Homo sapiens: one gene and its partners. The protein of the gene in region 1 purifies or fractionates together with the protein of each later gene. This does not show direct contact. Each region holds a gene or a part of one and is shown in the gene's direction. Other genes may lie near its edges.

Evidence for each region.
Region 2: the proteins of KIF1C (region 1) and ANXA7 purify together in Homo sapiens (affinity purification with mass spectrometry, with the first as the bait; one large-scale study listed by BioGRID). This does not show direct contact.
Region 3: the proteins of KIF1C (region 1) and CASC3 purify together in Homo sapiens (affinity purification with mass spectrometry; one large-scale study listed by BioGRID and IntAct). This does not show direct contact.
Region 4: the proteins of KIF1C (region 1) and LYST purify together in Homo sapiens (affinity purification with mass spectrometry; one large-scale study listed by BioGRID and IntAct). This does not show direct contact.

Annotation. Positions count from the first base shown.
Region 1 is NC_000017.11:5,021,950-5,025,425, forward strand, and holds part of KIF1C (kinesin-like protein KIF1C), read left to right. Parts: intron 1-142; coding exon 143-760; intron 761-1,518; coding exon 1,519-2,202; 3' UTR 2,203-3,476. UniProt on the Homo sapiens protein: Motor required for the retrograde transport of Golgi vesicles to the endoplasmic reticulum. Has a microtubule plus end-directed motility.
Region 2 is NC_000010.11:73,383,059-73,386,558, reverse strand, and holds part of ANXA7 (annexin A7), read left to right. Parts: intron 1-2,868; coding exon 2,869-2,982; intron 2,983-3,213; coding exon 3,214-3,384; intron 3,385-3,500. UniProt on the Homo sapiens protein: Calcium/phospholipid-binding protein which promotes membrane fusion and is involved in exocytosis.
Region 3 is NC_000017.11:40,147,037-40,150,536, forward strand, and holds part of CASC3 (protein CASC3), read left to right. Parts: intron 1-3,500. UniProt on the Homo sapiens protein: Required for pre-mRNA splicing as component of the spliceosome. Core component of the splicing-dependent multiprotein exon junction complex (EJC) deposited at splice junctions on mRNAs.
Region 4 is NC_000001.11:235,800,907-235,804,406, reverse strand, and holds part of LYST (lysosomal-trafficking regulator), read left to right. Parts: intron 1-1,342; coding exon 1,343-1,499; intron 1,500-3,309; coding exon 3,310-3,500. UniProt on the Homo sapiens protein: Adapter protein that regulates and/or fission of intracellular vesicles such as lysosomes. Might regulate trafficking of effectors involved in exocytosis.

The DNA of each region.
Region 1 (3,476 bases):
GGTGCGCTGTTGGGGTGGAGCAGGACTTGAACCCAGGCTCCCTGATGGGCGTGTTTCCAGTGTACTTAGGACACACTGGGCCAAGACACATGGGCTCTGGATGTCCTTAGCCCTCTCTTCCTCTTTCTTTCTCTGGCCCCAGTATGCAGACTCGGACAGCGGGGATGACTCTGACAAGCGCTCTTGTGAAGAGAGCTGGAGGCTCATCTCCTCCTTGCGGGAGCAGCTGCCGCCCACCACGGTCCAGACCATTGTCAAACGCTGTGGTCTGCCCAGCAGTGGCAAGCGCAGGGCCCCTCGCAGGGTTTATCAGATCCCCCAGCGACGCAGGCTGCAGGGCAAAGACCCCCGCTGGGCCACCATGGCTGACCTGAAGATGCAGGCGGTGAAGGAGATCTGCTACGAGGTGGCCCTGGCTGACTTCCGCCACGGGCGGGCTGAGATTGAGGCCCTGGCCGCCCTCAAGATGCGGGAGCTGTGTCGCACCTATGGCAAGCCAGACGGCCCCGGAGACGCCTGGAGGGCTGTGGCCCGGGATGTCTGGGACACTGTAGGCGAGGAGGAAGGAGGTGGAGCTGGCAGTGGTGGTGGCAGTGAGGAGGGAGCCCGAGGGGCGGAGGTGGAGGACCTCCGGGCCCACATCGACAAGCTGACGGGGATTCTGCAGGAGGTGAAGCTGCAGAACAGCAGCAAGGACCGGGAGCTGCAGGCCCTGCGGGACCGCATGCTCCGCATGGAGAGGGTCATCCCCCTGGCCCAGGTAGGACTGGCCTTCTGCCTCCCTTCTCTCCTCCCTCGGCTCTTCACTTTAGGAGTCTGAACCTTCCATCTCAGAGCCTAACCTTCCCCAAGTCTGGAAAAAATTGCATTGAAGTATAGTACGTTTTTTTCAATATTGTTTACGAACCACATGCCTCGCTGTCACCAGGCTGCTAATTAAAATAGATTCCCGGGTTCCACCCCAGACCTACTGAATCCACATCTTTGGGGACAAATCTGCATTTATAATAAGCTCTGGGTGTTTCTGAAATACAGTGAAGTCTAAGACCCACTGATATAAAGTTTGCAGTTTTGTTTTGTTTCTGAGGTGAAGTCTTGCTCTGTTGCCAGTCTGGAGTGCAGTGGCACAATCTCGGCTCACTGCAACTTCCGCCTCCCAGGTTCAAGCCATTCTCCTGCCTCAGCCTCCTGAGTAGCTGGGACTACAGGCGCGCACCACCACACCCGGCTAATTTTTTTTTTTTGTATTTTAGTAGAGACGGGGTTTCACCATGTTGGCCAGGATGGTCTTGATCTCTTGACCTTGTGATCCGCCCACCTCAGCTTCCCAAAGTGCTGCGATTACAGGCGTGAGCCACTGCGCCCGGCCCTAAACCACTATTTTTCGAGCTTCCTTATCTCTAGGCTTTTCTCTGGACCCTTTGACATCCAGCCACTCCAGGTCCCTCTTGAATCCACATGTCCTGAGGATTCAGCTCTCCTCACATCCCTTCTCCTTTTCTCACTCCTCCCTCCCAGGATCATGAGGATGAGAATGAAGAAGGTGGTGAGGTCCCCTGGGCCCCGCCTGAAGGATCAGAGGCAGCAGAGGAGGCAGCCCCCAGTGACCGCATGCCGTCAGCCCGGCCCCCCTCGCCACCACTGTCAAGCTGGGAGCGGGTGTCACGGCTCATGGAGGAGGACCCTGCCTTCCGTCGTGGTCGTCTTCGCTGGCTCAAGCAGGAGCAGCTACGGCTGCAGGGACTGCAGGGCTCTGGGGGCCGGGGCGGGGGGCTGCGCAGGCCCCCAGCCCGCTTTGTGCCCCCTCACGACTGCAAGCTACGCTTCCCCTTCAAGAGCAACCCCCAGCACCGGGAGTCTTGGCCAGGGATGGGGAGCGGGGAGGCTCCAACTCCGCTCCAACCCCCTGAGGAGGTCACTCCCCATCCAGCCACCCCTGCCCGCCGGCCTCCGAGTCCCCGAAGGTCCCACCATCCCCGCAGGAACTCCCTGGATGGAGGGGGCCGATCCCGGGGAGCGGGTTCTGCACAGCCTGAACCCCAGCACTTCCAGCCCAAAAAGCACAACTCTTATCCCCAGCCACCCCAACCCTACCCAGCCCAGCGGCCCCCAGGGCCCCGCTACCCCCCATACACTACTCCCCCACGAATGAGACGGCAGCGTTCTGCCCCTGACCTCAAGGAGAGTGGGGCAGCTGTGTGAGTCCCACATCCTGGGCAGAGGGCCTGGTGGGGCCCCTTGCTAGGAGAAGGGAAGACGCCCGAGACGCTGCTTCCCCAGAAGTGCTGGGGCAGGGAGGCCCAGGAGATGAGAGAGAAGGTCCGAGTAGGTGATAGAAGACAAGGGGGAGACCGAGCCGGAGGCTGAGGAAAGGAAGAGGGCACGGAGTTGCCAGGAGCAAACCAAAGTGAAGAGAGAGATAGGAAGCTGCCTCGGGGCCACCCCTTGCAAAGGGGGTGTGTCCCACAAACGCTGCTATGGGTGGGGTGGGGGGCTGGGGTGCTGCGTAGCCAGTGTTTGACTTTCTTTTCAAGTGGGGGAAAGTGGGAGAGGACTGAGAGTGAGGCAAGTTCTCCCCAGCCCCTGTCCGTCTGTCTGTCTGTCTGTGGTGGTTTCTGTTTCTTGGGAGGCATGGTAGGATCATAAGTCATTCCCCTCCCCTTCCAGGCCTCCTGCTATATTTGGGGGACCTGACTGGTTTGGCTGGAGTCCCATGAGGATGTGGGCCCTTTAATAAAGGATAGCAAACAGGGAGCTTGTGGCCTGTTTGTTTTGGGTTTTCATGGAGGTGTAGGTTATATAAGGCAATGGCACAGGTCTTAAGCATACTTATCAGTGAAGTATTGTATGTGTGCTCTGTGCAGGCACCACCCAGATCTGGATATAAGAATGTTTCCATCTTGTCTTCCTGAACTTCACCCTCCTGTCTCTTCCTTCAGGGTGCGCAGCCCGATCTTTTCCCCGCTTTTTTTTTTTGGGAGACAGGGTCTTGCTTTGTTGCCCAGGCTGGAGGTACAGTCTTGGCTCACTGCAGCCTCCGCCTCCTGAGTAGCTGGGATTACAGGCATGTGCCACCACGCCCGGCTCATTACTGTTTTTTTTGTAGTGACGAGGTTTCACCATATTGGCCAGGCTGGTCTCGAACTCCTGATGACCTCAAGTGATCCGCCCACCTTGGCCTCCCAAAGTGGTGGGATTACAGGTGTGAGCCACCGCGCCCGGCCTCCCCTGCTTTCATGTTTGCTTACCCAGTGTCTCAGTCTGTGCCAGCAGCACCACTGTCTGTTATGGACAAAGCACAGAAGCGGGGATGCGAGGGGAGGTAGAGGGACCGCCAGCCTGTCAATGCTTAACTGGCTGTTGCTGACAGATACAGAAGGATTTGTGGGGTACAGAGGAGTTCTGCTTTAAGTCACCTAACTTACTTGAAAGGTCTCCCAAGCAGCCAGTTTCTCTTGATAGTGAATGGGTTGGGC
Region 2 (3,500 bases), on another chromosome or scaffold:
AAGATTTGGCTTAAATATCAGCTACTCTGAAGTTTCTTTCATTAGTCTGGACAGAATTTAGCTGCTTCTTAATACTGTAGTCCCATAGCACTTTGTAAAACCTCTGTTATTACTAATCTCACGGCCCACCCCCAAAAACTGAGCTCCCATAGGACAAACCATGGTCATAGTCATCTTTGTATTACAGTACCAAGTATATAATGGCAAGTAGCCACTTAGTACTTGTTGAATGGATGATCAGTTTCTAAATCCAACAAGATTCTATGGCTAAAAAATGCCATTGTTCCTCAGATGTAATGGGAAAACATGGATAGCACTGCTTTGCTTTTTTTTTTTTTTTTTTTACTTTTTTTTGAGACAGAGTCTCAAAAGGCTGGAGTGCAGTGGCATGATCTCCGCTCACTGCAGCCTCCACTTTCCAGGCAAGAGCGATTTTCGTGCCTCAGCCTCTCGAGTAGCTGGAATTATAGGTGTCTGCCACCACACCCAGCTAATTTTTGTACTTTTAGTAGAGACGGGATTTTGCCATGTTAGCAAGTGTGGTCTCAAACTCTTGGCCTCATGTGATCTGCCTGCCTTGGCCTCCCAAAGTGCTGGGATTACAGGCATGAGCCACCACGCCTGACCTGCTTTGCCATTTAGATAGGAATCCTAAAAATATCCTAATGTTCTCTGCATCTAGTTTATATTTCTCAGAATGGGGTAGTGGTCCATTGATTGGTCCCACCTTGCTTATTCTATTTTGCCTTTCCCTGTCTGCCCAGCCCAGTGACTGATTATGCAACACAAACCCTAGATCTCCTTAAGCTTCAACATCAGACTCACTATTCTCACAAAGATATTTTCCATGTTATGAATTTTTTATCTAGTCTGCACAATGCTGTCTCAAGTTTTTTTATATATTGCTTTAGAATTAAAACTAACAATCTAATTTCCGTACCACTAGCCACCTCTTTTCTTAACTTCCTAATTAGTAAAACACTGTTTTTCTAGCCTGCTATAGTCATCTTTGAGTCCATGTTTTTCTTTTATCATAGGGAGTATTCTGTATGCTTTGTCCTAGCAGTTGGTTATTTACTAGTTTTTATTGATCTAATCTATAAAATGGCCCTTTAAAATGTTTCTTTTGTCTACTTTGTTCCTTCTCATTTCCATTGTTACCATTCAAGTCCAAGACTTTATTACCTCTTAACTAAATATTCCAGTAGCCTAAATGTTTTCATCTATAGCTTCTTTGTCACCATCATCCATTCTGAATATTGTTGCTACATCAGTGCCATTTTCTTGCATGAAAAGTTTCCAGTGGTTCCTCCCAGCAAACAGAATCAAGTCCATATTCTTTAGCTTGGCATTCAGTGTAATAATCCAAGATTTAGTTACAACTTTGTTTTAACTCATCTATTATGAAAACCTTCCTCTGTAGCAAAACCGGTTGTCTTATTGTTCCATTGAACAAGCTTTGCTCATTCTTGGCTCTATACGAGTAATTCTCAACCTTAACTGAACATCGTAATTTCCTTTAAAACTTAAAAATACACAGAATCTCTGAGTCTTAGTCCTGGACATCAATGTTTTTCTTTTTTTTTTTAAAGCTCCACAATGAATGTAATGAAGAGTCAAGGCTGGGAACCCCTTCTCTGTTCCTTGGTGGTGTTCCTTCTTACCTGAAATACCTTTCTCCTTCGTCTTTGCATGCTAATTTTTACATTTTTCTCTGAGCTCTCCAGCTGACTTTGAACTTTTTCTGTTTCAACTTTCTCTATTACTTATTTCTATGCTACTTACCCAGTGCTAGAGTACAGGTTACCTTACATTATTTTTTTTTTAGATGTGTATCTTTCCAAATAAGAACAATATCGGCTGGGCACAGTGGTTCATGTGTGTAATGCCAGCACTTCGGGAGGCCAAGGCGGGTGTATCACTTGGGGTCAGGCATTCAAGACCAGCCTGGCCAACATGTGAAACCCCATCTCTACTAAAAATACAAAAATTAGCCTGGCGTGGTGGGATGTGCCTGTAGTCCCAGCTACTCAGGGGGCTGAGGAAGGAGAAGCGCTTGAACCCAGGAGGCAGAGGTTGCAGTTAGCCGAGATCACACCACTGCATTCCAGCCTGGGCCACAGAGCGAGACTCTGTCTCAAAAAAAATAACAACAAAAAACAAATAAGAACAAGATGATAATGGTTTCTACTTCCTCATAGAACCAAGAACAGTTCCTTTTACTAAGTAAATATCTGTTTATCATTTTGTCAGTTTGAATAATTCTTTGTTTCATATATCCCTTGTTTTTGTACCTGGTAGAGTGGAATAAGATTTTATTAAATGTTTATTGATAGAATGAATAAAATAGATCTGCTTGAGTGTAATAAATGTGTAAGTGTAACAGACTTTAAATTTATTTACTTCTTTTTTATTTCTATTTATTTATTTTTTTTTTTGAGACGGAGTCTTGCTCTGTCGCCCAGGCTGGAGTGCAGTGGTGCGATCTCAGCTCACTGCAAGCTCTGCCTCCCAGGTTCACGCTGTTCTCTTGTGTCAGCCTCCCGAGGACCTGGGACTACAGGTGCCTGCCACCACTCCCGGTTAATTTTTTGTGTTTTTAGTAGAGACAGGGTTTCACCGTGTTAACCAGGATGGTCTTGATCTCCTGACCTCATGATCCTCCTGCCTTGACCTCCCAAAGTGCTGGGATTACAGGCATGAGCCACCGCGCCTGGCCTTTATTTACTTCTTAGTATATTAACATTCAGCTTTCAAATTTAGGTTTTTATAAAGCAATTCCATTTCTTTTTTTGTATTTTCCTTAAAAGATTTAAGTGACAAAATTTGGAGAACACATATACTTAGCTTGTATTTGTGATTAAATAGGATTTAATCAAAGATCTCAAATCAGAGTTAAGTGGAAATATGGAAGAACTGATCCTGGCCCTCTTCATGCCTCCTACGTATTACGATGCCTGGAGCTTACGGAAAGCAATGCAGGTACTACTATATGTCATTTATTATGAATATTTTGTCCTATTTCATATGTAAAACCGTACAAATTATGACAGTTCTGAATTTACAGTGGTAATTAAAGCAATTCTTTATTTCACATCATCCATCTGAATATATAGTTTTTAGTTCTACAGAACAAAGAAATATTTGACGAAGATTTAATTACTTGCAGAAATTTCATTTTTCTTTGTATAATCTTCCCTTCATTTCATGTAGGGAGCAGGAACTCAGGAACGTGTATTGATTGAGATTTTGTGCACAAGAACAAATCAGGAAATCCGAGAAATTGTCAGATGTTATCAGTCAGAATTTGGACGAGACCTTGAAAAGGACATTAGGTCAGATACATCAGGACATTTTGAACGTTTACTTGTGTCCATGTGCCAGGTGAGTATAGTATGAATGCTTGTGCGTTGATAGAGGGAACATACTTTAAAAGCCTTTTGCCAGTGAGCATTCTTTATTCCTTTTAATATTTAGCCACCTTGCAATATTGCCATCTT
Region 3 (3,500 bases), about 35 Mb from region 1:
GTTTTGGGGATTGTGAATTTATAGCAGCTTACCATTCTATATGTAAGGGAGTTTGGATGTTTTCCTAATGGCTAGGAAAGAAGTACCACTGAAGGCTTAAATGTGGGGGATGAATTGTGGGTGAGGCACAAAGGAAGACTAGAGGCAGAAGAGCTGTTTAGAGGTTGTTAGGATAGTCCAAGGAGCATGACGATGGTGCCCCTAAAGAAGGTTCATACTTGTTGGAATGGCAAGATGTGGGACAGATTAGAGAGAGATTCTAGTGTACTAACAACCCCTTCATTGATTGAATGTGGAACCTAAATTAAGGAGTCAAAGGAGGCCAGGTACCTTGGCTCATGCCTGTAATCACAGCATTTTGGGAGGCTGAGGCAGGTGGATTGCTTGAGCCCAGGAGCCTGAGACCCACCTGGGCAACATGGAAAAATCCTGTCTCTACAAAAGAAAAGTAGAAAAAAAAATTATCCGGTCTTGGTGGCGCAGGCCTGTGGTCCCAGCTACTGAGGAGGTTCAGGCAGGAGGATCATCTAAGCCCAGGGAGGTCAAAGCAGTAGAGCTGTGATCACTCCACAGCACTCCAGCCTGGACAACAAAGTGAGACCCTGACTCAGAAAAAGAAAAAGGAGTCAAAGGAATGTGCAGGTTGATGAATGGTGTTGAATGGTGTTAACTGTTAAGGAAGGGACCCCAGGAGAAGAGTTCTGGAAGGACAGTTGTGGGTTAGGTTTTGGATGTTTTGAGATCGAGAAGGTGTGGGACTTTTAGGTGGTGATACCTGGTAAATAGTTTTTGATTCCTAATTGCTCATACCTTTCTGAGTTCTCATTTCATTTTTGAGTTTTTCCAATTCTGATTGATGTTCTTTCATGCCTTATATAATTTTCTTAATGTCTTTTTAGCTTATTTTGAAATAGAAGTTGCAATTTTGATATGATATGCGGATGTCTTTCTGGCATGCTTTCATTGTCTGTAGGAATGCTATTATTTTTTCTTATTATAACTTTATGGGATTTAACTTCTGTATTTTCTGTTCATTTTTATGTAAAATTAGTTTTCCTGGTCTTTTCGAAGGAAGCATGATTTAGAATAGCTTTTTCTAACTTCACAGAGCTGCTTCTGTTGTTTTTCTGTGGTGGTGAGAAATATGGTGGCTTGCTTTCTGAGATTTGTTGCTTTTGTTCCCTTTCCCAGCTTGTTCTGGACCATCCCTGTCCTACTGAATTTGGTCCTGCTCTCAACAGTTTCTCTTCTAGGAACTCCCTTCTAGGGACAGTGTAGGGCCCTGTCCCCAGAAGGAAGCCCTGGCAGCCAGGTCAGCTTCATCCCTTCAGACCTTTTTTTTTTTTAAGACAGAGTCTCACTCTGTCGCCCAGACTGGAGTGCAGTGGCGCAATCTCAGCTAACTGCAATCTCCGTCTCCTGGGTTCAAGCGATTCTCCTGCCTTAGCCTCCTGAGTAGCTGGGACCTCGTGTGTCACCGTGCCCAGCTAATTTTTGTATTTTTAGTAGAGATGAGGTTTCACCATGTTTTCCAGGCTGGTCTCGAACTCCTGACTCAGATGATCCACCCACCTTGGCCTCCCAAAGTGATGGGATTACAGGCATGAGCCACCGTGTGTGGCCCCCTTGCTAGTTGTAAGTGCTGTTCTCAGTTTTGACTGTTGTGCTTTCCCTTGACTGCCTGTTGATTATTTCAGTGTTCTCCTGTTCTCAGGTCCATTTGCTTTCTCTCTGCTTTCTCCTGCGTGGACACCAGTACTATACAGGTCCTACAGCTGTTGGTGCTTTGTTATGCACTTACATTTTGGGTCTTGGGGGATACCTGGTAACTTAACTTTGTTGCAGTGTTGTCTGAAGGTTTTGGTTTCTTTTTTATTTTTTGAGACAGAGTCTTGCTGTCGCCCAGGCTGGAGTGCAGTGGCTTTGCCTTCCAGATTCAAGCTATTCTTGTGCCTCAGCCTCCTGCGTAGCTGGGATTACAGGTGCGTGCCACCATGCCTGGCTAATTTTTGCATTTTTAGTAGAGACGCGGTTTTACCATGTTGGCCAGGCTGGTCTCGAACTCCTGGTCTCAGGTGATCCACCCACCTCGGCTTCCCAAAGTGTTGGGATTATGGACGTGAGCCACTGTGTCTGGCCAGGGTTTTGGTTTGGGTCTCGGTTTTGCTGTCCAGAGCTCTCATTCCATGTGGAGATTTGAAGAGAGATAAAACTGTGCCACTGCCATTTTCTGAGAGTCTTCCAAGAATTCTTTTTTTTTTTTTTTTGGCAAATGGGTCTCCTTATTTTGCCCAAGCTGAGCTTGAACTTGAACTTACAATCCTCATCAGCCTCTTGAATAGCTGAGACAATAGGTTCATGCCACTGTGCCTGGCCAAAAAAACTTGTTAAAGAAATTTGACTGAGGGAAGGCTGAAGAGATGGTAGTTGGAGAGGTAGCTTTGAGATCAAGAGGTGATTTGGATGTTTTTTAAAAAGTTAGGAGAGTATCAAATAAGGTCAAAGATTGAAAAAAAGAAAAGAAAGGGGGAAAAAAGAGAGGGAATAGATAATGATATTGAGTACTGGTATTTTTGACTGAGTATATGAGAAAAAGTAGGAACCAGACAAGATTAACATCTTCCATTGTAATTACAGAGAAGTGGGAAGGAAAGGTATGTGCAAAGGAAGATTAGAAAGGAGGGAAAAGCTGGGTGCGGTGGCTCACGCCTGTAATCCCGGCACTTTGGGAGGCCGAGGCGGGCAGATCACGAGGTCAGGAGATCGAGACCATCCTGGCTAACATGGTGAAACCCCGTCTCTACTAAAAATACAAAAAATTAGCCGGGCATGGTGGCGGGCACTTGAGCCTGGGCGACAGAGCGAGACTCCGTCTCAAAAAAAAGGGAAAAAAAAGAGGGAATAGATAATAATATTAAGTACTGGTATTCTTGACTAAGTACATGAGAAGATGTAGGAACCAGATGAGAAGTATCTTCCATTGTAATTACAAAGAAGTGGGAAGGAAAGGAAGTTAGCGTTCCTTTCTGTGTTTTGTTTTTGTGAAATAGAAGGATAGAGCAGGACAGGCACGGTGGCTCACACCTGTAATCCAAGCACTTTGGGAGGCCAAGGCAGGAGGATTGCTTGAGCCCAGGAATTTGAGACCAATCTGGGCAACAAAGTGAGACCCTCTCTCTACAAAAAATCAACCTGGCGCAGTGATGTGTGCTTATGTCCCAGCTACTTGGGAGCTTGGAGTGGGAGGATCCCTTGAGCCCAGGAGGTCGAGGCCACAGCAAGCTATGATTGCACCACTGCACTCCACCCTGGGTAACAGTGTGAGACTCTCGAAAAAAACAAAAGAATGACATCTGCTTCAAAAAGTAAGAGTGTGTGCGTGTGTGTGTGTGTGTGTGTGTGTGTGTGTAACCCCCTTTGGCAATGGAGTAGTCTGTTGTAGGCCTGGAGAAAGCAGACATTTGAATTGATCCAGTTCCAGGCATATGGGAGTGGCAAGA
Region 4 (3,500 bases), on another chromosome or scaffold:
ATGGACTAGGACTTGGTCAGATGAGTTCAGTGGATCTTATCTCCTCGTGATGGATATGTGATGGGATGGACAGTATTTTGTCATTGCCCTGTCTTATACATAACAGGAGAGTGATATGATAAGCTTTTCCTTATCTAATCTGGAAATTTACTGAGAATTACTTCGAGTTAAGACAGAAATATATTACTTGATTTGGTATATTTTACATATACCTGATAGTGTATTAAATGCTAATTCAGGGATGGTGGTGATTTACCTATCCTATCTGGTTCTTTGGTGGTATAGCTAATATTTCCAGAACTCTCTACTCACATTAATTTTAAATCATTCAACATAAAAATGACTAGTGCCTACATAGAAAATAGCAGTCACAGTGTTTTAGTTGTTTAACATTTTTTCCTAAAACAACTGTTGTAATTTTCTTTCCTAAAATTATGTGGTACATAATTGGCTTGTTTCCCTCTCATTTTATGTTTATTTTACCTTTAGTTGCCATCTGTCCTTTATTTTTTATATAACTTCTCCTTTTAGCTCCTTGATCTAGCCATATATATAATGTTTTATAAGGTTTTGAAATAACATTTTATGTTACTATTTGCCATAACTTAAAAACATGCTGAAATAGCTATGAATACGTTCATCATATTACTGAATTAATTGACTAACTGTAAAATGTTAAAATACCTACTTTATTCTACCTTTTATTGTTGTTACAATGATGAAGTATTCTGAGCTTCTTTAAGTGAAAATGTTTTCTAAAATGAAGGTATTAGTGGAATTTTTATAAGAAAAGGAAAATTTCTTTCTTACACAGGAAGTTAGTACTGGAACTCTTGACTTCTGAGATGCTTGTTATGTAGACAGTTGCATTCTGAGATCTTTTAATTAATCCCTTTGAAAAAAATGTCTTGTCTGCTCTAGTTACCTAACTTATAAGGCATTTATAAAAATCCTTATGAAAAAATCTTTTTTATTAACAAATGTGCACAAATAATATATATTAGTATTAAATTGTATGAAGTAAAATTTTACCACATTGTGGTTTTTTGTCATTTCCAATTGTATAACTAGAATGAAATTTCTTACATAGATTTATTTATTAAACTGAAATGACCTATAACTTACTTTGTTAGAAACCCCCTTTTTGAGGTATTAAGTTGTCTGAAAGGATCTGGGAAATTTTGCTGAGTGAATTTCATAATTTATAATGATTCATATTGTTTACTAAGTTTTTTTCTTCAAGAAAATATTGAAACTGTCCTTAACATGACTTTTGAGTAATAAGTATTCTATTACTAAAAACAAGCAAATGTTACAACCTTTGAATTACACTGATTTATAGAGTCATCAATCTGCAGAAGAATTGTCATCCCAGCCTGGTGATTTTTCAGAAGAAGCTGAGGATTCTCAGTGTTGTAGTTTTAAACTTTTAGTTGAAGAAGAAGGTTACGAAGCAGATAGTGAAAGCAATCCTGAAGATGGCGAAACCCAGGATGATGGTAAAATATCATTGAAGTGCTTGTAATTAGATCTGCAAGCCAGATCATTAAATAGCAAAATGGTTCATAATAATACCACTTTAGAATTTTGTATTGCCTTACAGTTTAACAAGTGTGTTGCATAATCTTTTTATTGATCTTCCCAACAGTCTGGCATTCATATATGCAACAATGTGATATAGTTTGTTATCACAAACATCATCTGAGTGGTTAAGAACATGGAGTGAAGGACAGAGTCCCCAATTTCATGTATATTCTAGTGTGAAAGACAATAAATACCAGAAATAGATAATAAAATAGAAATCGATAAACTGGGTGATGTCGTATTAGTAACTGGGTGGTGAGGGAAGTCCTTTCTGAAGAGGCAATGTTTACATTGAGGACTAAATGAAAACAAGCTAGGCAGACAAACACTGGCAGGAAGAGCATTCAGGCAGTTTGTTATAAAGAATACATAATACAGGAATGCAGACACCTGTCTGTGACAGCCAAGCATAGATTTCTTCTTAGTTTACCACAGCTCAATTTGTCTTTAGGATGGAACTATATTGCCTATGATCCTTTCCTCCCTTGTCTTTGGACTTAAAATGAGTAGAATGGAAAAGATGGGTTGATTAGAGCCAAGAGACTTCTGGCAAGACTCCATCTTTTTATATGCTGACCTTGTGAGTGTCCCAGTACTGCTAGTTTTTTTTTTTTTTTTTTTTTTTTTTTGAAATGGAGTCTTGCTCTGTCGCCCAGGCTAGAGTGCAGTGGCGTGATCTCGACTCACTGCAACCTCCATCTCCCAGGTTCAAGCTATTCTTCTACCTCTGCCTCCCAAGTAGCTAGGATTTCAGGAGCCCGCCACCATGCCCAGCTAATTGTTATATTTTTAGTAGAGATGGGGTTTCACCATGTTGCCCAGGCTAGTCTCGAACTCCTGACTTCGTGATCCACCCGCCTCGGCCTCCCAAAGTGCTGGGATTACAGGCGTGAGCCACCGCACCCAGCCACTGCTAGTCTTCACTGAGTTCTCAGTAGGATATCTTCCTCACAGTCAGTTTTCTCGCTCTCATCTAGTGAATGGGAATAATCACTGATATCTTACTTAAAGGGCTTGATGGACCCATGACTGGTGCTTTTTGAAAAAATATTGGTTTATTAATTTTTTTATAGTACAGCTTACCATAGTACAGATTTGACTTTATAATTTTGGATTTCCTCCTTTTTTATGTTTGCTAAGTAGATCTCAACTTAAAGAATTCTGATCTAGGTAGAAATTTATAAATTTCTTAACTGTATCAACATTTTATTAAGAGCACAGCAGTCTTAAAAGATCATATAAGTCAAATTTTCCAAAATGCAATATTCAATAAGACAGAGTCTGTTTCTCACTTATGAAGAAGGCAAAATTGATCATTCTTCCAACCACTAGTCAAGCCTACTATTTTCACAAAGATTTGGGTAGGCAAATTGAACTGCTCTGTGATTTAGGTATTTGAGGGGGGGGTCAGAAAGTTTGAATAGGTTTTTTTTTTTTAAAGTTGTGTCCATGGGATGTGTTAAATCTCTATCATATGTCTGTAAAAATTCTTATTTGTAAAATTTGTAGTTCTATTGAAGATGAAAATTGCTTTTAAGGGAACTCATTAATCTTCAAAATTTCCATATCATTGTCAAAAGTTGTGTTATAGGAAAAGATTGGAAAAGGTTTTGTAAGCATCCTCTGAATTACTATTTTTGCCACTAGATCTTCTAAATGATTAATGAAGTTTGAAATATTTAGTGTTTAGGGAATACAAGTAATCTTTCGCTTTTCTCTTTTCAGGGGTAGACTTAAAGTCTGAAACAGAAGGTTTCAGTGCATCAAGCAGTCCAAATGACTTACTCGAAAACCTCACTCAAGGGGAAATAATTTATCCTGAGATTTGTATGCTGGAATTAAATTTGCTTTCTGCTAGTAAAGCCAAACTTGATGTGCTTGCCCATGTATTTGAGAGTTTTTTGAAAATTATTAGG